Regions from separate parts of the Homo sapiens genome. Here all the other regions are linked to region 3. Evidence: fine-mapped expression QTL. A gene starts in region 3. Each other region holds a variant in brackets. All regions are shown on one strand. Distances are between the middles of the regions. Region 1 overlaps TRPC1 (transient receptor potential cation channel subfamily C member 1). Region 2 overlaps ATR (ATR checkpoint kinase). Region 3 holds the start of ATR (ATR checkpoint kinase).

Region 1 (8,187 bases), 180 kb after region 3:
ATTCAGATCTTTTGCCCATTGTAAAATCAGATTATTTATTTTTGGTTTTTTGCTTTTGAGTTGTTTGAGCTCCTTACATATTCTGGTTATTAATCTCTTGTCAGATGGATAGTTTGCAAATATAGTCTCCCATTCTATGAGTTGGCTCTTTTGTTTGTTTTGTGGAAGTGTTTTAGCTTACTGTAATCTCAATTGTCTATTTTTGCTTTGGTTGTCTGTACTTTTTTTTTCTTTTTTTTCAATTATACTTTAAGTTCTAGGGTACATGTGCATGTCGTGCAGGTTTGTTACATAGGTATACATGTGCCATGTTGGTGTGCTGCACCGGTTAACTTGTCATTTACATTAGGTATATCTCTAATGCTATCCCTCCCCCCTCCCCCACCCCACAATAGGCCCTGGTGTGTGATGTTCCCCACCTTGTGTCCAAGTGTTCTCATTGTTCAATTCCCACCAATGAGTGAGAACATGCAGTGTTTGGTTTTCTGTCCTTGCGATAGTTTGCTCAGAATGATGGTTTCCAGCTTCATCCATGTCCCTACAAAGGACATGAACTCATCCTTTTTTATGGCTGCATAGTATTCCATGGTGTATATGTGCCACATTTTTTTTATCCAGTCTATTATTGATGGACATCTGGGTTGGTTCCAAGTCTTTGCTATTGTGAATAATGCCACAATAAACATAAGTGTGCATGTGTCTTTATAGCAGCATGTTTTATAATCCTTTGGGTATATACCCAGTAATGGGATGGCTGGGTCAAATGGTATTTCTAGTTCTAGATCCTTGAGAAATCACCACACTGTCTTTCACAATGGTTGAACTAGTTTACAGTCCCACCAACAGTGTAAAAGTATTCCTGTTTCTCTACATCCTCTCCAGCATCTGTTGTTTCCTGACTTTTTAATGATCGCCATTCTAACTGGTGTGAGATGGTATCTTACTGTGGTTTTGATTTGCATTTCTCTGATGACCAGTCATGATGAGCATTTTTTCATGTGTCTGTTGGGTGCATAAATGTCTTCTTTTGAGAAGTGTCTGTTCATATCCTTTGCCCACTTTTTGATGGGGTTGATTTTTTCTTGTAAATTTGTTTAAGTTCTTTGTAGATTCTGGATATTAGCCCTTTGTCAGATGGGTAGATTGTAAAAATTTTCTCCCATTCTGTAGGTTGCCTTTTCACTTTTCCCATTCTGTAGGTTGTAGTTTCTTTTGCTGTGCAGAAGCTCTTTAGTTTAATTAGATCCCATTTGTCAATTTTGGCTTTTGTTGCCGTTGCTTTTGGTGTTTTAGTCATGAAGTCCCTGCCCATGCCTATGTCCTGAATGGTATTGCCTAGGTTTTCTTCTAGGGTTTTTATGGTTTTAGGTCTAACATTTAAGTCTTTAAATCCATCTTGAATTAATTTTTGTATAAGGTGTAAGGAAGGGAGTCTTGCTCTGTTGCCCAGGCTGGAGTGCAGTGGCGCGATCTCGGCTCACTGCAAGCTCCGCCTCCTGGGTTCATGCCATTCTCCTGCCCCAGCCTCCACGCCCGGCTAATTTTTTTGTATTTTTTTAGTGGAGATGGGGTTTCGCTGTGTTAGCCAGGATGGTCTCGATCTCCTGACCTCATGATCCACCCACCTCGGCCTCCCAAAGTGTTGGGATTACAGGCGTGAGCCACTGTGCCCGGCCTTGTCTGTGCTTTTGAGGCCTTACACACAAAAAAAAATTGGCCCAGACCAGTGTCCTGAAGAGTTTCCCCAATGTTTAATTTGAGGTTGTATATTTAAGTTTTTAATCAGTTTTGATTTAATTTTTGTGTATTGTGAGAGATTGGGGTCTAGTTTCATTTCATTCTTCCACATAGTTAATCCAGCTTTCCCAGCAGCATTTATTAAAAAGACTATCCTTTCCCCAAAATATGTTCTCGGCACCTTTGTCAAAGATGAGTTGGTCATAAATGCATGGACTTATATGTGGGTCTGTATTATGTTCCATTGGTCTATGTGTCTATATTTATGCCAGTACCATGCTGTTTGGGTTACTATAGCTGTGTAGTGTATTTTGAAGTCAGGTAATGTGATGCTTCCAGCTTTGTTCTTTTTGCTTAGGATTACTTTGCTATTTGGAGTCTTTTGTGGTTTCATATAAAGTTTAGTATTATTTTTTCTATTTCTCTGAAGAATGTCGTTGGTATTTTGATAAGGATTGCATGGAATCTCAAAATTGCTTTGGGTAGTGTTGTCATTTTAACAACATTAATTCTTCCAGTACGTGAGCATGGAATACCTTTCCATTTTTTGGTGACCTCTTCTATTTTTTTCATCAGAGTTTTATGGTCTTCCTTGCCTAGATCTTTCACTTCTTTGGTTAGATTGATTCCTAGTTTGTTTTGTTTTGTTTTGTTTTTTGTAACCATTGTAAATGGGATTGCTTTTTTGATTTCTTTTTCAGATTGTTCTTTGACATATATAAATGTTATTGACATTTGTATGTTGATTTTTGTATCCTGCAACTTTACTGAATTTTTTTTACCACTTCTAATAGTTTTTTGGTGGAGTATTTAGGGTTTTTTTGATGTAAGATCATGTCATCTGAGAACAAGGCTAATATGACTTCTTCCTTTCCAATTTGGATACTCTTTATCTCTTTGTCTTGCTTAATTGCTGTGGCCAGGACTTCCAATATTATGTTGAATAATAGTGGGAAAGTGGGCATCATCATCTTGTTCCAGTCTTTAGAGGAAAGGCCTTCAATTTTTCCCTGTTGGCTTTTATTATTTTGAAGTATGTCCCTCCTATACCTGTTTTGATGAGGGTTTTTTTGGTTGTTGTTGTTGTTATAAAGGGATGTTGAATTTTATTGAATGCTTTTCTGGCATCCATTGAAATAATCATATGGTTTTTGTTCTTGATTCTGTTAATGTCATGTATCATGTCTATTGATACATATATGTTGAATCATTCTTGCATCTCTGGGATGAATCCCACTTGATCATGACAAGTGATCTTTTTAATGTGTTGTTGAATTCAGTTTGCTGGATTTTTGCATCTATGTTCATATTATATCAATATATCAAAGTGTATTGGCCTGTAGTTTTCTTTTTTTGTTGGTTCCTTGTATGGTTTTGGTATCAGGGTAATGCTGGCCTCTTTGGATGAGTTTGGAAGCATTCCCTCCTTTTCAGTATTTTTGAAGAGTTTGAGTAAGGTTGGTATTAGTTTTCTTGAAATGTTTGGTAGTATACAGCAGTGAATCCATCAGGTCTTGGGCACTTCTTTGATGGGAAACTTTTTATTATGGCTTTGATCTTGTTACTTATGATTGGTTTGTTGAGGTTTTCTATTTCTTCATGGCTCAATCATGGTAGGTTGTCTGTGTCCAGGAATCTAACCATTTTTTCTAGGTTTTTCAATTAGTTTTGCATATAGTAGTTTATAATATTATTTAATGATTCTTTGTATTTCTAAGGTTTCAGTTATATCTCCTTTTTCATTTCTTATTTTTTTATTTGGATCTCTCTTTCTTAGTCTAGCTAAGGTTTGTTGATTTTGTTTATCTTTTCAAAAAATCAGTTTTTCATTTCATTGATCTTCTGTGGTTTTTGTTTTTGGTTTTTTGAGACAGAGTCTCACTCTGTCACCCAGTCTGGAGTACAGTGGCGTGATCACAGCTCACCGCAGCCTTGACCTCCTATGCTCAAGTGATCCTCCCACCTCAGCCCTTCAAGTAGCTGGGACTATAGGCACGTGCCACCACATCTGACTAATTATTGCATTTTTTGTAGAGATGGGGTTTCACCATGTTGCCCAGGCTGGTCTTGAACTCCTGGACTCAAGTGATCTGCCTGCCTTGGCCTCCCAAAGTGCTAGGATTACAGGTATGAGCCACCGTGCCTGGCCTCTTCTGTATTTTTTTAAATTCCAATTTCATTTATTTCTGCTTCGATCTTTATTTCTCTTCTTCTGCTAATTTTCGGTTTGGTTTATTCTTG[A/AT]TTTTTTTTTTTTTTTTTTTTTGACGGAGTCTCGCTTTGTCACCCAGGCTGGAGTGCAATGGCGTGATCTCGGCCACTGCAACCTCCACCTCCCGGGTTGAAGCAATTCTCCCACCTCAGCCTCCCGAGTAGCTGGGACTACAGGTGTCTGCCACCATGCCTGGCTAATTTTTGTATTTTTAGTAGAAATGGGGTTTCACCATGTTGGCCAGACTGCTCTCAAACTCCTGACCTCAAGTGATCCTCCTATCGTGGCCTCCCAAAGTGCTGGGATTACAGGCATGAGCCACCGTGCCCAGCCTATTCTTGATTTTCTAGTTCTTCAAGGTGCATCATTAGATTATTTGAACTCTTTCTACTTTTCTAATATGGGAATTTATTGCTATAACCTTCCCTCTCAGTACTACTTTTGCTCTGTCTCATAGATTTTGGTATGTTATATTCCCATGTTCATTTGTTTCAATAAATTTTTAAATTTTCTTCTTAATTTCTTCATTGACCCATTGGTGATTGAAGAGTATGTTACTTAATTTCCATGTGTCTGTGTATTTTCCAAATTCCTTTTATTATTGATTTCTAGTTTTATTCCATATGGTCAGAAAAGATACTTGTGATTTGTATTTTTCTGAATTTGTTTAGACTTGTTTTGTAGCCTAAGATATGGTCTGTTCTGGAAAATGTTTCATGTGCTGGTGAAAAGAATGTATATTCTGTAGCAATAGGGTGAAATGTTCTATAAATGTCAGTTAGGCCTATTAGATCTAGTGCGTAGTTTAATTTTACTCTTTCTTTGTTGATTTTCTGTCTAGATGATTTGTCTATTACTAGAGTGGCATGTTAAAGTCCCCTACTATTATTGTATTGTAGTTTATCTATGAACCTAACACTGGAGCCTTCATGTATATAAAGCAAGCATTAACTTTATATACTTGGGGGCTCCAGTGTTGGGTTCATAGATATTCATAATTGTTATATCTTCTTGCTGAATTGCCACCTTTATCATTATATAGTGACCCTCTTTGTCTTTTTTTAGTCTTTGATTTGTAGTCTATTTTATCTGATATAAGAATAGATACTCCTGATCTTTTTTAGTTTTCAGTTACGTGGAATATCTTTCAGTCTCAGTCTATGTGTATCTTTATAAGTGAAATGGATTCCTTGAAGGCAGCATATAGTTGGGTCTTATTTCTTTATCCATTAAGCCACACTATGCTTCTTAATTGGACAATTGAGACCATTTACATTCAGTGTGATTGTAAATAAGTATGGACTTACTGCAACCATTTTATTGCTTGTTTTCTCCTTGTTTTGAGAATTCTCTTTTCCTTTTTTTGTTTCTTATTGTCTTCCTTTGTAGTTAAGTGATTATCTCTGGTAGTATATTTTAATTTATTGATGTTTATTTTTAGTGAATATATTATAGGTTTCATACTATCATTACCATGATTCTTGCAAAAAACATCTTATAAATATAACAAATTATTGCAGTCCAGCCTGGGCAATAGAGCGAGACTCCGTCTCAAAAAAAAGAAATATATATATATATATATATATATACACATACATACATACATATATATATATATATAACAAATTATTTTAAAGAGATGACACTTATTTTAGATCACAGACAAAAGAATGGAAACAAAGGCAAAAAAAAATTCTACACTTTAGCTTCTTCTCCCAACATTTTCACTTTTAGTTGTCAACTGATATATTTTTATATTACCTATTTCATTTTCACTTTTAGTTGTCAACTGATATATTTTTATATTACCTATTTCTTAACAGGTTGCTATAGTTATTATTGTTTTTGATAAACTTGTCTTGGAGGCTTCACACTAGAGATATGAATGGATTGTACACCACAGATACAGTAATAGATTATTCTGTGTTTGTCTGTATACTTAATTTTACCAATGGTTTTTATACCTTGAACATTTTTTCTTTGCACACTGGTATTTTGTATTTTCTTCCAGATTGAAGAACTCCATTTAGCATTTTTTGCAAGGTGGATCTGGTAGTGATGAATTGTCTCAGCTTTCATTTGTCTGGGAAAGACTTTATCTCTACTTCTTATTTAAATAACAATTTTTTCTGGATACAAAACACTTGGATGGCAGGGCTTTTTTTTCCCTTTGGGCACTTTGAAAATGCCATTCCACTCCCTTCTGCCTGCATGGTTTCATTGAGAAGTCTGTTTCCAGATGAATTGGGGCTTCTTTATATGTTATTTGCTTCTTTTCTGTAGCTGATTTTAGGGTATTCTCTTTGTCATTGACCTTTGTGAGTTTGATTATTATATGTCTTGTATAGATTGAATCTGTTTGGTGGTCTAAGACCTTCCTGTACGTGGATATTTATATCTTTCTCAAGTTTTGGAAAGTTTTCTGTTGTTATTTCTTTGAATAAGTTATTTATCCCTTGTTCTTGCTCTGCTCCCTCTTAAACACAGGAATTCTTACATTTGGTCTTTTGAGGTACTCTTTTATATCTTATAGGCAGTCTTTGTTCCTTTTTGTTCTTTTGTCTTTTTTCTCCGCTGAATGTGTATTTTCAAACAGCTGATCTTCAAGCAGAATTTCTATACATCAACATTGTTCAAGCTGAGGGCCAAATCAAGAATGCAGTCCCATTTACAATAGCTGCAAAAAGAATAAAATATGTAAGAATACAGCTAACTCAGGAGGTAAAAAAAAATCTCTACAATGAGAACTACAAAACATTACTGAAGAAAATCAGAGACAATACAAACAAATGGAGAAACAGTCCATGCTCATGGATAGGAAGAATTAATAGTGTTAAAATGGCCATACTACCCAAAGCAATTTACAGATTCAATGCTATTCTCGTCAAACTACCAACATCATTTTTCACAGACTTAGAAAAAACTATTTTAAAATTCATATGGAACCAAAAAAGGACTGAAAAGTTAAAGCAATCTTAAGCAAAAAGAACAAAGTCAGAGTCATCACATTACCTGACTTCAAACTATACCACAAGGCTACTGTAACCAAAACAACATGGTACAACACAAAAACAGACATATAGACCGATGGAACAGAATAGAGAATCCAGAAATAAAGCTGCACCCCCACCATGTGATCTTTGACAAAGTAAACAAAAATAAGCAATGAGGAAAAAGGCTTCCTGTTCAATAAATAGTCTTAGAATAACTGGCTATCCAGATGCAGAAGAATGAAACTGGACCCCTACCTATCACCATATAAAAAAATTAACTCAAGGTGGATTAAAGTCCTCAAAAGTAATTTCAACAAAAACAAAAATTGACAAGTGGGACCTAATTAAACTGAAGAGCTTCTACACAACAAAAGAAACTATAAAGGGAATAAACAGATGATCTATAGAATGAGAGAAAATATCTGCAAAGTATGCATCTGACAAAGACCTAATATCCACAACCTATAAAGAACTTAAATAACCCCATTAAAAAGTGGGCAAAGGACATGAACACTTTTCAAAAGAAGACATACATGTGGCCAACAAGCATATGAAAAAAAGGCTCAATATCACTGATCATTAGGGAAATGCAAATCAAATCTACAATGAGATGCCATCTCATACCAGTCAGAATGTCTATTAAGAAGTAAAAAAAAAAACAGATGCTGGCAAGGTTATGGAGAAAAAGGAACGCTTATGTGTCTATATTTACATCAATATAACTCTGTACTGATTACTATCGCTTTATAGTAAGTTTTAAAATCAATTACTATGTGATGGTTAATACTGAATGTCAACTCGATTGGATTGAAGGGTACAAAGTATTGATCCTGGGTGTGTCTGTGAGGGTGTTGCCAAAGGAGATTAACATTTGAGTCAGTGGACTGGGAAAGGCAGACCCACCCTTAATCTGGGTGGGCACAATCTAATAAGCTGCCAGTGTGGCTAGAATATAAGCAGGCAGAAAAATGTGAAAAGAGACTGGCCTAGCCTCCCAGCCTACATCTTTTTTTTTTTTTTCTTTTTTTTTGAGATGGAGTCTCACTGTGTCACCCAGACTGGAGTGTAGTGTTGCGATCTCAGCTCACTGCAACTTCCACATCCTGGGTTCAAGCCATCTTCCTGCCTCATCCTCCTGGGTAGATAGGACTACAGGCATGTACCACCATGCCTGGCTAATTTTTGTATTTTTAGTATGGCCAGGCTGGTCTCAAACTCCTGATCTCAGGTGATTCACCCACCTCGGCC
Region 2 (8,187 bases), 86 kb before region 3:
GTGTTTTTGTTATGTTTAAGAAGTCCTGACCTAGATTAACAATCTACCTCAAGTTTACTTTTGTTTATGGTGGGAAGAAGGGATCAAGTTTGATTTTTTGTTTTCCTATAAGATACCCAAGTGATACAACAACATTTATTGAAAAGACTATTTTGGTTATTCACAGTTTGCCCCTCCAGATAGATACACTTGCCAACTTTAGCCTTTTCCACTCTGCTCAGTGCCCCAGCAAACTGAAATTGATGATTTATATCAATGGGCCTGTTTGCCCTCTGGCTTCCTGTGAAGTTCAATCAATGGAAGGTAGCAATAGATTAGAGGGTGAGGGGGAGAGTGAGGTTAAGGTCTTTATACCTGCTCGTTTCCTTCCTGCTGGGCTGCAGTTGACAGTGGTGGTGTTTCTTTCCCTAAGGTTAAGTTCTGGTCCAATGGTCCTTTCCTACAAATTTAGCTCCCTGTACAGGTTCCAGTAAATGCCCTATCCTTTTGCTCCTTCAGGTCTAGAGTTAGCAACGACTCTCTGTTGTTGCTAGCCATGGGGTACTTTCACCATCCTTTGTTAATTTCCCTTAATCTAGTTTTTCATTAAACTCTCCCCAATTACCTCTTTTGATTGGGCCAACTATTTTCTCCCTGCACCTGACCTCACACGATACAGTAAAGAGCATCTCAGATAGATTGGAGGTCACTAAGGAGATATGACAACTAATGCTATATGGAATCCTTAATTCTAGACAGAAGAAGAACACTATTGGGAAAACTGGTGAAATGTGGTCTACAGATAGTTAACAGTATTGTTTATCAATATTAATTTCCCACTTCTGATACTCTGGTAGTGTAAGATATTAAAATTAGTGGAAACACGGTAAAGGGTAGATATGGAAATTCCCTATACTACTACTAACTTTTTAGAAGTCAAAGATTATTTCAAATTAAAACTGAAAAAATGAAAGGTGACAGAGAAGCTTCTTGGTTATTCTTGGCCTTTATGTTTCCACATAAGTTTTAAATTCTAATTGTCAATTACCTGTTAGCATTTGATGAGTAATGCATTAAACCTCTAGGTCAGTTTGTAGAGAAATAATTATATTATTGAGTCTTCCCATTCATACATGTATTCTAGCTACCAATTTATTTAGTTCTTTTTTACTTCACTCAATTTTAATGTTTTAATTTTTATTTTGTGGAGAGGTCTTGTGTGCAATTTAATCCTAGGCATTTCATCATTTTTATTGCTATCCTAAATGATATCTTTAAAAATTTTAGGCTGGGCATACATGGTGGCTCACAACTATAATCCCAGCACTTTGGGAGGCAGAGGTGGGAGGATCAGTAGAGGCCAGGGAGTTTGAGACCAGCCTTGGCAGAACAGCAAGACCCTATCTCCACAAAATAAAAAATTAGCTGGGTGTGGTGGCATGTGCCTGTAGTCCCAGCTACTTGAGAGGCTGAGGTGGGAGGATCACTTGAGCCCAGGAGGTTGAGGCTGCAGTGAGCTGTAATCATGCCACTATACTCCAGCCTGGGTTGACAGACCAAGACCCTGTCTCAAAAATAAAATAAAGTAAAATTTTAAATCAACTTTCTTAAGACATATACACCCATGGAACCATCATTCCAGTCAAGAAGATGAACATTCCTAACTCTCGAAAGTTCTTATGGGCGCCCACCCTTGCCGTCACTCTCCTGCCAACTACCCAGGCAAATACTGATATAATTTCTATGCATATACATTAATTATACCTGTTCTAAAATGTCACATAAATGAAATCATATAAGCATATAGTCTTTTATGTCCCTCTTCTTTCATTCAGCATATCTATGACATTAATCTACCTTGTTGCGTGTATCAGTAGTTCATTTCTTCTTACTGTAGGGTAGTATTCCATTATACAACTGTACCAGTTTGTTTACCCATTCTTCTCTGGATGGCCAGCTGGCCTATTTCCAGTTTTTGTGACTAAACCTACTATAAACATTTGTGTACAAGTCTTTTTATTGACATATGTAATTGTTTCTGTTGGATAAACACCTAAGAATGGAATGGAATATGGTAGATTTAACTTTTTATAGTCCCCACCAGGTGCATTTATTGCATTAATAGGTATTGCTAGTCTTTCAGACTTTAGCCATTTTAGTGTGTAATGTGTTATTTCATTGTGGTTTTAATTTGCATCTTCCTAATGACTAATGATGTTAAGCATCTTTTCATTTGCTTTTTGGCCATTTGCGTGTATTCTTTATGAAGTGTCTATCCAAGACTTTTGCAGATCTGTATTTTTTTTCTTTTAATAGACAAAGTTTCACTCTGTAACTCAGGCTGGAATGCAGTGGTGCAATCATAGCTAACTGTAACCTTGAACTCCTAGGCTCAAGTGATCCTCCTGCTTTAGCCTCCCGAATAGCTAAAACTATAGGCATTCGTCACCATACCTGGCTAATTTTTATTTTTGCAGAGACAGGTTCTCACTATATTGCCCAGGCTGGTTTTGAACTCCTAGCTTCAAGTGATCCTCAGGCCTCGGCCTCCCAAAGCACCGGGATTACAGGCCTGAGCCACTGTGCCTAGCCTCACAGATCTTTAAATTGTCTTACTAAGTTGTAGGGTTCTCTATAATTTAGCTACAAATCCTCTGTCATATATGTATTACAAGTATTTTCTCCAAGTCTATGGCTTACCTTTTCATTTTCTTAACTGTCTTTCTTAGAAAAGGTTTTAACTTTGATGAACATCTAATTTATCAGGATTTTTTAAATGCTTAATGCTTTGTGTGACCTAAGAAAACCTTTGCCTACCCTAAGGTTGTAAAGATTTTCTTCTATTTTTTCATCTAAAAATTCATAATTTTAGCTTTTCAGTTTAGATCTATAATCTACTTTTTTGAAGCAATTTTGTCTATCATATGAGGCAGAGGTTGAAGATCATTTTTTTCCTCATACAGATATCCAACTGTTCAAGTACTTTCTGCTTGTAAATGGTATGTTTTAAATTCCTTTCTTGTTGTCATATAGAAATAAAATCATCAGGCAATCTTGTTTAATTCACTCAATATTTTGAATAGTTTATAATCTTTTGAATTTTCTACATATGTATTCATATCATCTGCAATTAATAACTTTCCTATATTTTTTTCCTAGTCCTTGTATCTTTTACTTCTTTTTTTATTTAAAGATTGCCATTTGGGTAATATTTTAAAATGACAGCTCTATTGGGATATAATTAATATATTATAAAGTTCACACTTTTAAAGTTGTTGTTAGTATATTTACAGAGTTGTGTAACCATCACCACTATTTAATTCCAGAACATTTTCATCACTCCAAAAAAAAAATTGTACCAATTAGCAGTCACTTCCCAGCCCCAACCTCAGTCTCT[AG/A]TACCCATTAATCTACCTTCTGTCTCTATGGATTTGCTTATTCTGGCCATTTCATGTAAGTGGAATCATGCAATATGTGGCCCCTTGGATCTGCATGTCATTCTACAGTAGTCAGCCTCTATTCTTTTCTCTACTCATTTCTGTCTACATCATGTATAGGCAACCAGAACAAGAGAAGCAGCTACTGAGGCCTTTATGACAGGAAATTAGGGGTGTATGCAGAAGAAACAGAACCTGAAAAGTTGGTAGTCTGACAACATCTCTCTTCCCTAACCCTGGCTTTAGTACCCAGGCAGAGATGGGAGAACTGGAATATTTGCTATCAAATTCTGCTGTTAAGTACTGGTGAGTTTTTGTGTGCCTCATAAGTTGTTGTGTCTTACATACTAGAATAAATTCAGAAGATCTCTCTAACTGGGAAGGTGAAACTTACAAGTATGGTTTCAGAACTTGCCTCATTATCACTGCCCTTTAGGATAATATAGTTTTTAATGCAAATCAAGGTTAGTTTCTTAGGTGGCATGACATCTTCTTGTAACCAAGGAACAGGAGCTGGACTCCTATTTATCTTCATCAGAATGCAACACTTCCTGGATCTAAAGATTAGCACTGTCTGTGCCATTTGCTTTGGCTGTTGGTCCCATTTAGGTCTTTCTTGTATCTTTGATTTCTCTCTCTTCTCATCATGCTCTTATTTTTGTTTATGTTCTTAAACTTATGGAGCCTATATACAATAGCTGTTTTTAAATCCTGTCATTTCTAGAACTATTTCTACTGATTTATTTTTTTTCCTATCTGTGGCTCAAATATTCCTGCTTCTTCATTCACAGAGTAATTTTTTAATGGATGCTGGATATATTTTTACATTGTCAAGTTTTAGATTTTGTTGTCTTGCTTTAAAGAGTGTTAGGCTTTGATCTGGCAGGCAGTAAGGTTACTTGAAGATCAGTGTAATCATCTTAAAGCTTGTTTTACTGCCCTTCTAGTATGGATATAGAGTAGTTTTTAGCCTAGGACTAATTTAGTCCTACTTCTAAGGTGTGGCCCTTTTAAGGTCTTTACTGAATGCTCCATATTATGCAATGAGGCCTCTTAATCTGGCTGGTGGACTGAATAACTCTCAATCCTGTAATCTGAATGAATCTCAATCCCGTGTGAGCTCTGGAAATTGTTCTTATAGCCTCTGCATGTTTATTCTTTCCCCAGCAGTTATTCCTAGCTTGGCCTCATAGAATTCTGAATTATTCATGTGCAGGCTGGTATTCAGCGAACACAATTCCTATGCAGATAGGAACTACTCTGTTTAACTTTTTTCTCTCAGTTAATCTGTCCCACAAATTCTAGCCACCTGCTCTTTGCTTTATTATTTCCTTTCTTCTACTTTTTTATTTCTCTCCCTACTTTTTTAGTTCCTTTTCTAACTCTTTGGGATAGATACTTAACTCGTTAATTTTGAACCTTTATTTTCTTCGAATATATGCAAATAAAAATTTAAATCCCTTTTAAGAATGGCTTTAGCTGCACAGGATATGATATGCCATTTTTATTATCATTCAGTTCAAAGTACTTTTCAATTTCCATTGAAAGTTTTCATTGACCCATGGATTATTGAGAGGTATATCTCTTACAACACCATCTATATAAAGTTTAATACCTAGTAAAGAAGTTATAAATTGGTTTTGCTGAAAAATTTTCAGGCTAGGATGTAGTTAACTTTGAGACAGAGGGTGAGAATAGTGATTACTGGGATGAAGGGTAGTGGGGTTATAGAGCTCAAATAATATTCTATTTCTTGATGTGGTGGCAGTTTCATGAGTATATTTATTTTGTGATAATCCATATACTTATATACTCACTGAAAAGTCAAAAAAATTTCCTGGTTATTTTTATACATGTGCTTTGCCATATAGACTTAAGTCATTTTACGTAGTCAACAGAGTTAACTGAAACTGCATTATACATATACTTGCCTTATATTTTTTCATAATTGCATTGCTTTCAAAGTTAGCTGTTTCTTCCATAAATCGGCCCACTAGTAGCATAGCTCGACCATGGATTAACATGTTCTTACCCTCAGGTGGGGTTTCATTTTCAGGAAAACATAATTCAACACCTTTTTGAAGAACAATTAGTGCCTGGTGAACATCACCCTAAAAGAAAAAAGGCAACAATAAGCCTTTTAATTTAAAAACATACTTCTATTTTCTGCAAAAGTATTAGTTCATTATGTTTTTGTACAAATCCATTTGTAATTTCATGTTTATCTTTTACTTGCCTCTTATTAAAGTAAAATTCTAAAACTGAAACATTGCTTCATCTCATTCATTCATTTACTAATTAATTTTATAACTGCAGTTGGCTCTCTGTAGCCACAGGTTCCACATCAATGGATTCAACCAACAGTGGATAGAAAATATTAGGAATGGCTGGGCACAGTGGCTCATCTCTGCAATTCCAGTGCTTTTGGATGCCAAGGCAGGGGGACTGCTTGGGGCCAGGAGTTTGATACTAGCCTGGGCAACATAGCAAGATCCTGTCTCTACAAAAAATTTAAAAATTACCCAGGTGTAGTGGCTCATGCCTATAATTCCAGCTACTCGGGAGGCTGAGGGGGAAGGATCGCTTGAGCCCAGGAATTCGCAGTTACAGTGAGCTATGACACACCACTGCTCTCCAGCCTGGGTGACAGAGCAAGATCCTCTCTCTTAAAAAAAAAAAAAGAAAGCTAGGCATGATGGCTTATGCTTATAGCCTTTGATACAAAGTTCAGGGTGAGGTGGGAGGATTGCTTGAGAGCAGGAGTCCAAGGCATCAGTGAGCTATGATCATGCCACTGCACTCCAGCCTGGGCAACAGAGCAAGACTCTGTCTCTCTCAAAACATAAAAATTTAAATTAAAAAAAAAAAGAAATATTACAAAGAAAAAATTAAAAATAATATGAATAAGCAATACAAGTATAACAACTGTTTACAAAGCATTTGCACTGTATTAGGTATTATAAGTAGCCTAGAGAAGTATACAAGAGGATGTCCGCAGGTTATATGCAAATACTGTGTATGCCACTTTATATAAAGGACTTGAGTATCCACAGATTTTGTTATCCATAGAGAATCCTGGGACCAATCCCTCCATGGATATCAAGAAAGGACTATAATCAAAGTTCAGGGAATTGAAGACAATCACAAACAAATTAAAATCCCTGACATAAAAAAAGTTCATAGTCACATGAGAAAAGAAACTATGTGAAATAAAAGCATATTTGCTAAGTGTTACAACAGAGGAATATACATCAGCATTATACAGGATAGAGAAGAGAGTCCCTTAAACCTACCTGAAGAATATAGGAAAATGGAGGAGAACTACAGTCAGGAAAAGTTATCAACGAAGAAAATTTGAATTAGGTTTTCAAGAATGAGTAGAAATCTTCTTGGCAGAGAATTTAGTGAAAGGCATTCTAGGTAGATGGAATAATAATTTTAATTGGAAGAAAAGCACATAGTCTGATTTTAGCTGAAGTTTAAAGGGTTTTTGAGATGGTGATGAATGACACTGAGGAAGTAGGCCAGGACTTGATCAGAAAGGGATTTGTGTAGTTCCTAGAGTTAGGCTTAATCCTAAAGGTATGAAGAATACTTTGTAAGATTTAATCTTTTTGAAGGAGCAACATGATTCGATGTGGATTTTAGAAAGATCACAAACTGCAATAACGTATACAGGGAAATGGTGAGATCCTAAAATGGTTGTTAATATTGTTAGAGGAAGTAAATAATAAAGTCATAAGTTAAAGCAGTGGAAATAAATAAGAGGGAGAGGATTCAAGAGATATTTCTAAGGTTGAAGAACAAAGATTTAGTCTCCAGCTGGATGTGAAAAGTGAGGTTGCAGAAGGAATTTAAGATGATGTCCAGATTTCTGTTTTTGATGGAAGGATGGAATAAAGTCTTGTTCAGAGAAGTAGGAAACATGAGAGGAGAAACAGATATTGAGTATTAGGTAATAAATTGCATTTTGAACATTTTGAGTTTAAGGTATTATAATACATAGACTACCACTAGCTCAATAAAATGACCAGGTACTGACTAATGCACACTGAATAAATTGCTTTCCCCTCTCATCCAGGAAACCTCTCCTGTCCTTTCTCAGCCACCACAAGTTGGTGTAACCACAAATGGCACCAACAATAGTTGCTAAGTATCAATTCCAGAACATGCTATTATTATTAGTAATGCCTATTACTAATTCTAAACTGGTGACTAGCCTGAGGAGAAATTTAAGTAATAGCCATTAAATCTGGGTTATTGGCCAGGCGCGGTGGCTCACGCCTGTAATCCCAGCACTTTGGGTGGCTGAGGCAGGTGGATCATGAGGTCAGGAGATCGAGACCACCCTGGCTAACACGGTGAAACCCCATCTCTACTAAAAATACAAAAAATTAGCCAGGTGTGGTGGCACACACCCGTAGTCCCAGCTACTCAGGAGGCTGAGGCAGGAGAATCACTTGAACTCGGGAGGCAGAGGTTGTAGTGAGCGGAGATCGTGCCACTGCACTCCAGCCTGGGCAACAGAGTGAGACTCCGGTTCAAAATAAATAAATAAATAAATAAATAAAAATAAAAAATAAATCTGGGTCATAAACCTTGCAAGTAGTTCCAATGTTTAAAAAACCCCCTTCTTATTACTTTGGCTTTAATCTGAGGTCTGCCGTGAACTTCTGTTCAGATGCTAGGCCCTTTCTGGCTAGATCAGAGCTGAATATTTACAGTAACACTGGCAAGTCTACAGAGAGCTAATTATCTGCCAGCAACTAAG
Region 3 (8,182 bases):
ATTTAAAAATGTGAACAAAGAGGAACATGGGAAGAGGAGCCAGGATTGTGGGTAGTGGTCAGAGTTTCTTACAAAGTTTCATTTTGTAAAGATTATGTACTCATGTATTATTTGTGTAATTTTTAAAAATCAGTTTTAGAAAAATGTAAATTGATTACCATTCATTAGATCTACTATCAGAAGAAAGAAACTTGGCCGGGCGTGGTGGCTCATGTCTGTAATCCCAGCACTTTGGGAGGCTGAGGTGGGCGGATCACTTGAGCCCAGGAGTTTGAGACCAGCCTGGGCAACATGGTGAAACCCCGTCTACAAAAATACAAAAATTAGCCAGGCATGGTGGCACACACCTGTAGTCCCAGCTACTTGGGAGGCTGAGGTGGGAGGATCGCTTGACCCCAGGAGGCAGAGGTTGCAGTGAGACATGTTCATGCTATTGAACTCCAGCCTGAGCAACAGGTGAGCCAGTCTCAAAAAAAAAAAAAAAAAAAGAAAAAAGAAAGAAAACTCACAGGAGTGAGCACTTCTTATTTTGTGACTTCTACCCTGGAACTGAGCTAAGAGGGTATAACTTTTCAAAAGCATACTATAAAATTTGAGTATTAATGTAAGTATTATATAAAGCTTAGGCACCTCCTCTGAGGTAAGCATCAAATACCAGGATAACCAAGACAGAATGCACCTGCCCTAAAATAATTTGCAGATTAAAGGACAAACAAGAGGTAATTATGGTTAAGAACTGACAGGCCCAAGAAAGAACACAAAGGGACACTCAGCCCTGAGCAGGGCCCTGTCAGTCATGGCTTCCTTAACGAGGTGATACAAAACTGACTCCCTAAGGGACAAGGCAGTGAAATAAGGGTAAGAGGGAGGGTAGTCCAAGCACTGGAAACTGTAAGAGGCTCTATGTGGCTAAAGCCTTTAGAGATGCAGCTGAAGAGGGAAGATAAGGTTAAATTTCAAAGGACTGGCTAAGTAGTTTGGATTTTACACTGAAGGCAATGTGTAAGCACTGAAGGATTTTAAGGAAGTAAAAATTAAGCAAGTTTTAAAAAACTTGCTTATTTCCCTGTTTAAAAGATTCCAATGGTTTCCCATCACACAATAAAATCTCACTCCTTTTTCTAGCCTCCAAGGTGCTGAAGGATGTGGCCCTTGCCTACCCCTCCCTGTTTAACTCATACCACTCCCCTCTTTACTCCCTGTGCTCCAGCCTTCTTACTATCCTTTTAAAAGTAGGCTCATTCAGCCTTGGCATGGTGGCTGAGGTGGGTGCATCACTTGAGGTCAGGAGTTGGAGACAACCTGTGCAACATGGTAAAACCCCATCTTCACTAACAATATAAAAATTAGCTCGGTGGTGCAAGCCTGTAGTCCCAGCTACAGGAAAGGGAGGCTGAGACAGGAAAATCGCTTGAACCCGGGAGGCAGAGGTTGCAGTGAGCAGAGATCACGCCACTGGAGAGGGCGAGACTCCGTCTCAAAAAAAAAAAAAAAAAAGCAGGCTCATTCCCACTTATGGGCCTTTGTACTTCCTATTCCATCCCAGATTCACGTGACTAGCTTCTTTACACCATCAAATCTCCTCTAGTGGCTAATGCTGCTGCTCCTCAGAACCTCCTCCACATCCCACTGTTCCATTTAACATTTTAATAGCAACTATCACATTTGAAAATGTCTTACAACTACAAAGCAATCTCAAGTAGGAAAATCAGAGAAGGTGATTCTGAAATGACATCTAAATGAAACCATCCAGTGTTCAGATAGAAGGAACAGCAAACGATTAAAGGCAGGAACAGCCTTGGTATCCTGGAGAAACAAGGTCAGTATCACTAGAGTAAAGTAAGCAAAAGAGGGATAAAAGGTGATGAAGTCAGAGGCAGGCTGAGCCAGATTATGTAGAACCTTAGAGGCCTTGGTAAGGAGTTTGGATTTTATACTGATTTTAAGTGTGCTGGAATGTCAAAGGACGGTTTTGTGCAGGGGAACTTACAATATGACTAATAGATGAAAAATCACTTTACTGAGTGGAAAATCTATTATAAGTAGGTAAAAGTAGAAATGGAAAGATCAACTAAGGTTACTGTAATAGTTCAGGTAAGAAATTCTGGTGGTAGCAGTGGAGACAGTGAGAAGTGTTAGATTCTAGATGTATCTTAAACATATGGTTGTCAGAACTAACTTATGGATTATTAAGCGACAAGGGAAAAAAACCAAGGATGACTCCTAGGCTTTTGGTTGGCATATTTACGATAACACAGGAGAAGGAACAAATTCAAGGGCGCAGTAAATCAGGCGTTCTGCTTTGGATATGTTAATTTTCACTTCCCAGTGTGGATGTTGAGTAAGCAACCTAATATATATCTCCGATCTAGAAATATAAATTTGGGAGTTATCAGCATATGGATGACATTTAAAGCCATGAGATTAGGTAAGATTACTTGGGAAGACAGCACAGATTAAAAGAGGGCCAAGGACATAGACTGAAAGCACATGTGAAAATAGTTAAGAATGACTTCTAGATTTCCAGTTTGGAGAACTAAGTGAATATGGTGCCATGTACTGAGATATCTCTACTTCAATGAATAAGAGAAAAATAATTTTTTTAATTTAAAAAAAGAAAGCTTGTGAAAGCTAGGACATGTGGGGAATTTGTATTGGATATTCTGAACCTTAACTACACATAGGACACTCAGTGAAACTACCAGTATACAGTAAATATACAATTCTATAGAAGACATGATTTGGAGAAACATATTAGTAGTCATCAAATAGCAGATTATAGTTGAAGGCAGGAGAGTGGAAAGGTCATTTAGCAAGATTATGCAGAGCAGACTGCTAATAGCAAAAAAACAATAGGACAAAATTTATCTGAGGGACTGAGGAAGAGCAGCCCATAAATTAGAACACTAATATCTTTTTTTTTCAGTAGTCTAATTGCCATAGTCAATTAAGAGGAAACATTTTGGAAGAAAAGGCCTTGAAAGCTTGAATCTGAAACCTAGCTCTGTTATCTGCTAGCTGTGCCTTTGGTTCTTCAACTTCTCTGTCCCTTTTTCTTAAACAGTGGTAACACTTGTTTCATTCTATGTCATGGATATACTATGAAAATTGATTAGCTTTTTTGATTCAAGTAGTTGTAATGAAAAAGCCATGACAATTAAAAACTATTAGACAACTCTCTGTGGGTCAGTTTTTCTATTCTTTCTCTTGGAATAGCTACAAATAAATGAAAGGTAACATAAACTCTACTGATGAAACCGACTATATATAATCCAAGAACCAATTATTTTTATTAACAGGACTCACGGAGGAAGACAGAAGAGGGAAGAGAAGTATTAACCAGTTAATTCTACTTTAAAGCAAAGTGGCAAAAATATACTCAGCTTCACAATGAGCCTGAAAGATGAAATTTGTAAACCAACTTCCTACAATGATCACTTTTCTTCCTCTTCTTTTAGAGAGGTAGAGGTTATTTTATAAACTAAACACAAAGTATACTTGCCACAGATAAGTGGAAAAAATTCACACACTCAAAAATAGTGATGCAGTTACGACAAGAATGGTCCCTTCATTTATCCTTTTATTCATATATTGAGACTAGATTATTTGGATGGCCAACCAGTGGAAATGAACACAACTGCGCTGCAAAAAGAAAGAGAAGTAGCTATCCCATTGGCTTAATGTCAGCTTTGACTTTGTGTGGAAAGTTTTCAAACAGTTTAAGAAATTGGGAAGCAGTTATTCCAAATGATAATTTAACTGCGGTAGCAGCACAAGCTTATTTATTTCTTGTTCGCAGTAGTGTAGAATTAAAACAAACAAAGCAAAACAAGCTCTACCGAGTCTTTAGGCCTGGTTCAGGGAAGCCTGCCTGTGTATTGAAGAGGTGTGAGAGCCATCAACACCTCTCCCTCCTTGTGGTAAGATACTGGTTTTCATGAGGTTTACAGACAACATGCATTTGCAAATGAAATATTAAATTGTCTCCAAATTTTGGCAACACTCTGTGCACGCTGAGATTTTGTGGACCCAGGGGTCTATCTCTCCAATTTCTGACTAAAATAACGGATCGGGAACTGGACGATCAATACGAGGGAGGTCACATCTTCAGTATGTACTATGACTTCACTTCAAAGAAAAAAACTGCCTTTTCCAGCAAGTGATGTCACTTGCAGAAAATGAGAAGCGGTGATTTTCTTTCAAGGGCAGTTTGGGGACAAAATGTAAGGCTAAAAACCAATTCCTCCACGAGTGATCACAAAGAACAGAAACTGATGGGTCAAGTCCCTCGTCTAAGGAAAAAGATTTTCGAGAAGAAAATGAGTGTAGAAAAGTGACCAGAAAGCGATCAGCAGGGACTCTTCCTCCAGCTGCAGGAAGCAAACTCTCGATCGGGGTGAGTGGTAAACCAGGGCCGGCAGACGCCTCTCTCCCCCACGGACCGGCTTCCCGCAGGTTTGTGGCGACTGCCCCATGTGCTATCAACGGGCACTCTGAGGGAGAAGCGCCCAAATCAGCCACGGAGCATCTCCACAAGGGCCGCAGCGGGGGCTTAGGGGATCCCAGCCATAGCGCAGCAGGGGAGGGGAGAGCACGTGAAACCCAAGCCGGAATCAGCGGAGGAGGATGCAGGACCCAGGCTGGGCCTAGCCCTACCTGCCCAGCTCCCGCAGGGCGGGGATCATGGAAGCCAGCTCCAGGCCATGTTCCCCCATGCTGAGGCTGCGAGGCACTAGTCAACCACGCCAACGCGGGTTCCCGGCGTCTCCAAAGCTACCGCTGCCGGAAGAGCGCGGCGCCCGACGGAGCCGTGTGGAGGCCAAAACTCCTCCCGGAAGCCGCTACTGGCCCCGCTTGCCAGGCCCAGCGTCTTTTCTGCATAGGACCCGGGGGAAGCCGGGAAGCCGTTAGGGGGCGGGGCAAGCGGGCGGGCGTGCGTCGGTCAAGTTTCCCGGGTCGCGTCAGGCTTCTTTCTCAGCACCGAGCGAGCGACGTTCGTGAAGCTTTCGTTTTGAGCGGCCAGACTCTGCTGTTCTCAAGCCTGGGAGGCACAGAGAAGCAAGACTTCCGCATCGGGGGAGGATAGGGCTTGAGGGCCGCCAGCCCAGACTCGCTTCACAAATGTGAGAACTATGACAGTCCAGCGAGTAAAGGCCAAGAGTAAACTCCAGGTTTCCCCAGAGTAACGCTCTCACATTTTAAAAGTTCCTCACGTTCCCACCGCTCTTGTCCCTCTTTCTGAGAGATACAGGCCAAAAGGTGGGCTCTCCCTGTTTTTTTCCTTTTAAGCATTTTTTTTCAACTTGAAGTCACTGTTAGGTTTCGTTGAGGACCCTACCAACTTTTAATATTTGAAAATGGGGTTGGAATATATTTGTGTCTCATCAAATCAGCAACAGTACTGTGTGTGGAAATGCCACCATTACGGGCATCCGCAACCTGTGATTTAATTTTTAAAGTAAATCAATGGATTTTGGCAATACACATTTTCTAGCTCAACTCAATTTATTGGAAAGATGACCACCATAAGAGATTGTTGACATGTCAAAGTTATGTAGTTAATCACTCAAAGTCATGCAGTATGTTTACATTTGTTCTTTGGTACATGAGGATAGTTAACCGATACAGTATCTTAAAGAAAAAAGTGATGGAATGACAGCCAAATATGCTCTTGCCTCAAGAACTTTGCATTTGCTGTACTCTCTGCCTTGAACACCACTCTGTCATTGCCCTTTTTCCTTCAGGTGTTTGCCAAATTAACACCAAAGAGCCTCATATAGACTAACATATATACACATTCTGTCTCACCCTCTTTTTTTTGTTAGATACATTGTCTTACTCTGTTGTTCAGGTTCTAGTGCAATGAATGTTGCAATCATAGCTCACTGCAGCCTCAATCTCCCAGGCTCAAGCGATCCTCTCACCTCAGCCTGGGCTCAATTGATCCTCCTGCCTCAGCCTCCTGAGTAGCTGGGACTACAGACATGCCACCACGCCTGGCTAATTATTTTTTGTAGAGACAAGGTCTTGCTATGTTGCCCAGGCTGGTCTCAAACTCTTGGCCTCACACGCTCCTCCCACCTCAGCCTTCCAAAGTACTAGAATTAGAGGTGAGAGCCACCACACCCGGACATACTATATTATTGTCTCTCTCCAGTTAGAGTGTAAGCTCTTGGAGAGCAAGGTCTTGTCTATTTTGTTCACTCTCAGATACCCAGGACCTAAAACTGTGCCTGGCACATAGGTGGTGTTCAGTAAACATTTGTTGAATGAATCACTGAATGTTTTAGGAGAAAGGACATGGGATTGGGAGTTACAGGCCCTACACAAGTTCTCATTCCATCTGCTAGAAACTATATGACCTCAGTAAAGTTACTTAATCTCTTAATACTTCCATTTTTTCATTTATAAAATGGGATTAATAATGTCTACCTCACAAGATTACAGCAAAGATTAAATAAGAGGGGGTAAAGTCATAAAGTGGAATATAATTTCATAGTTAAAATGAATGAATTATACTACCTATACCAACGATGAATCCTGAAAACTACATTGATTGAAAAAGCAAATTCAAAGGTATACATAATAGTGTCATATCATTTATATACAATCTTAAAACCACAAAACAATGCGTTGTGTGAGTTATGTATACAAATATGTTTGATAAAAGTATGAAAACATGTTTGGCAAAGATAGATATCAACTCCAGGATAGTTGCACCTGTGGAAGGGAGAGAAGGGAATGAAATGATGAAGCTTCAATGTATCCCTAAGGGTTTTCTTTTAGTAGGATTTGAATTAATTATTATTTAATCAAAATTTAATGTTATATTTGGGTGGATGTTATATTACTATTTGTATCTGCATAGCCAGGATATTCCAACATGTATTAAAAAAAATAGCTCCTTCCCGTCTTGTAAGATGGTGGGGGAAAAAGTTGAGAAGCCAGACACCAAGGAGAAGAAACGTGAAGCCAAGAAGGCTGATGCTAGTGGCAAGGTTAAAACATAACTTCGGTTGGGCACGGTGGCTCACGCCTGTAATCCCAGCACTTTGGGAGGCTGAGGCAGGCGGATCACCTGAGGTCAGGAATTCAAGACCAGCCTGGCTAACATGGTGAAACTCCATTTCTACTAAAAATACAAAAAATTAGCTGGGTGTGCTGGTGGGCGCCCGTAATCTCAGCTATTCGGAAGGCTGAGGCAGGAGAATCGCTTGACCCCGAGAGGCGGAGGTTGCAGTGAGCCGAGATTGCATCATTGCATTCCAGCTTGGGCAACAAGAGCGAAACTCCGTCAAAAAACACAAACAAAAACACCTCAAGGCTAAAAAGCCAAAGAAAGGGAAGCCCCCCTGCAGCGGAAATCCTGTCCTTATCAGAGGAATTGGCAGATATTCTCAATCTGCTATGTCAAAAAGGCCAGGTACAAGAGGAAGTACTCGGGTACTAAATCCAGAATTAAAAAGAAGAAAGTCCAGACTTGAAAAAGGAAAAGGTTCTTGCCATTGCTACAAAACCAGTTGGTGGCAACAAGAATGGTGATACTTTTTGCAAAGTAAACCCTACAAAATGCCTAGATCCTTCCAAAGATGTGCCTGGAAAGCTGCTGTTGAGCCACAGAAAAAACAAACAGAAACACTTCAGTCAGCACAGAGAAAACTGCAAACTAGCTTCTCTCCTGGGATCATTCTGCTTATCCTCACTGGGCACCACAAAGGCAAGAGGGTGGTTTTACTGGAGCAGCTGAGGAGTGGCTTGTTAATTGTGACTGGACCTCTGGTCCTCATTCACATTCTGTGGGAAACACACCAGAGGTCATCACAAAATTGAAATCAGCAATGTGAAAATTCCAAAACATCTTACCAATGCTTGCTTAAGAAGATGATGCTATGGAAGCCCAAATACTGGGAAAGTGACATCGTCAACACAGAAAGAGAGTAATAGAAGATTATGGAGCAATGCAAGGTTGATCAGAAAGCTGTGGACTCGTGGCCAAGCACGCTAGCTCACTCCTGTTACCCCAGCACTTTGGGAGCCTGAGGCGGGTGGATCACTTGAGGTCAGGAGTTCGACACCAGCCTGCCAACATGGTGAAACCCCATCTCTACTAAAAATACAAAAATTAGCCTGGCGTGGTGGCGGGCATCTGTAATCCCAGCTGCTGGGGAGGCTGAGGCAGGAG

Evidence for each region. PIP is the estimated chance that this variant, and not a neighbour inherited with it, causes the effect.
Region 1: its variant is fine-mapped to the expression of ATR in whole blood (INTERVAL, PIP above 0.99).
Region 2: its variant is fine-mapped to the expression of ATR in whole blood (TOPMed, PIP 0.94).

Annotation. Positions count from the first base shown.
Region 1 is chr3:142,758,450-142,766,636 of GRCh38, forward strand. The region is part of intron 4 of TRPC1 (transient receptor potential cation channel subfamily C member 1); the gene reads left to right. Among named protein-coding and RNA genes, the nearest start is that of TRPC1, 39 kb to the left of the region's middle. The variant A/AT (reference allele first, on the strand shown) is at 3,979.
Region 2 is chr3:142,487,785-142,495,971 of GRCh38, forward strand. ATR (ATR checkpoint kinase) reads right to left here. Exons shown (of 47, transcript NM_001184.4): 35 at 5,348-5,527. Among named protein-coding and RNA genes, the nearest start is that of XRN1, 44 kb to the left of the region's middle. The variant AG/A (reference allele first, on the strand shown) is at 3,377.
Region 3 is chr3:142,573,990-142,582,171 of GRCh38, forward strand. It overlaps ATR (ATR checkpoint kinase), which reads right to left and starts at 4,744. Exons shown (of 47, transcript NM_001184.4): 1 at 4,657-4,744. The coding sequence starts at 4,715. It also overlaps the pseudogene RPL6P9. RefSeq lists enhancers at 4,535-4,694, 4,995-5,094.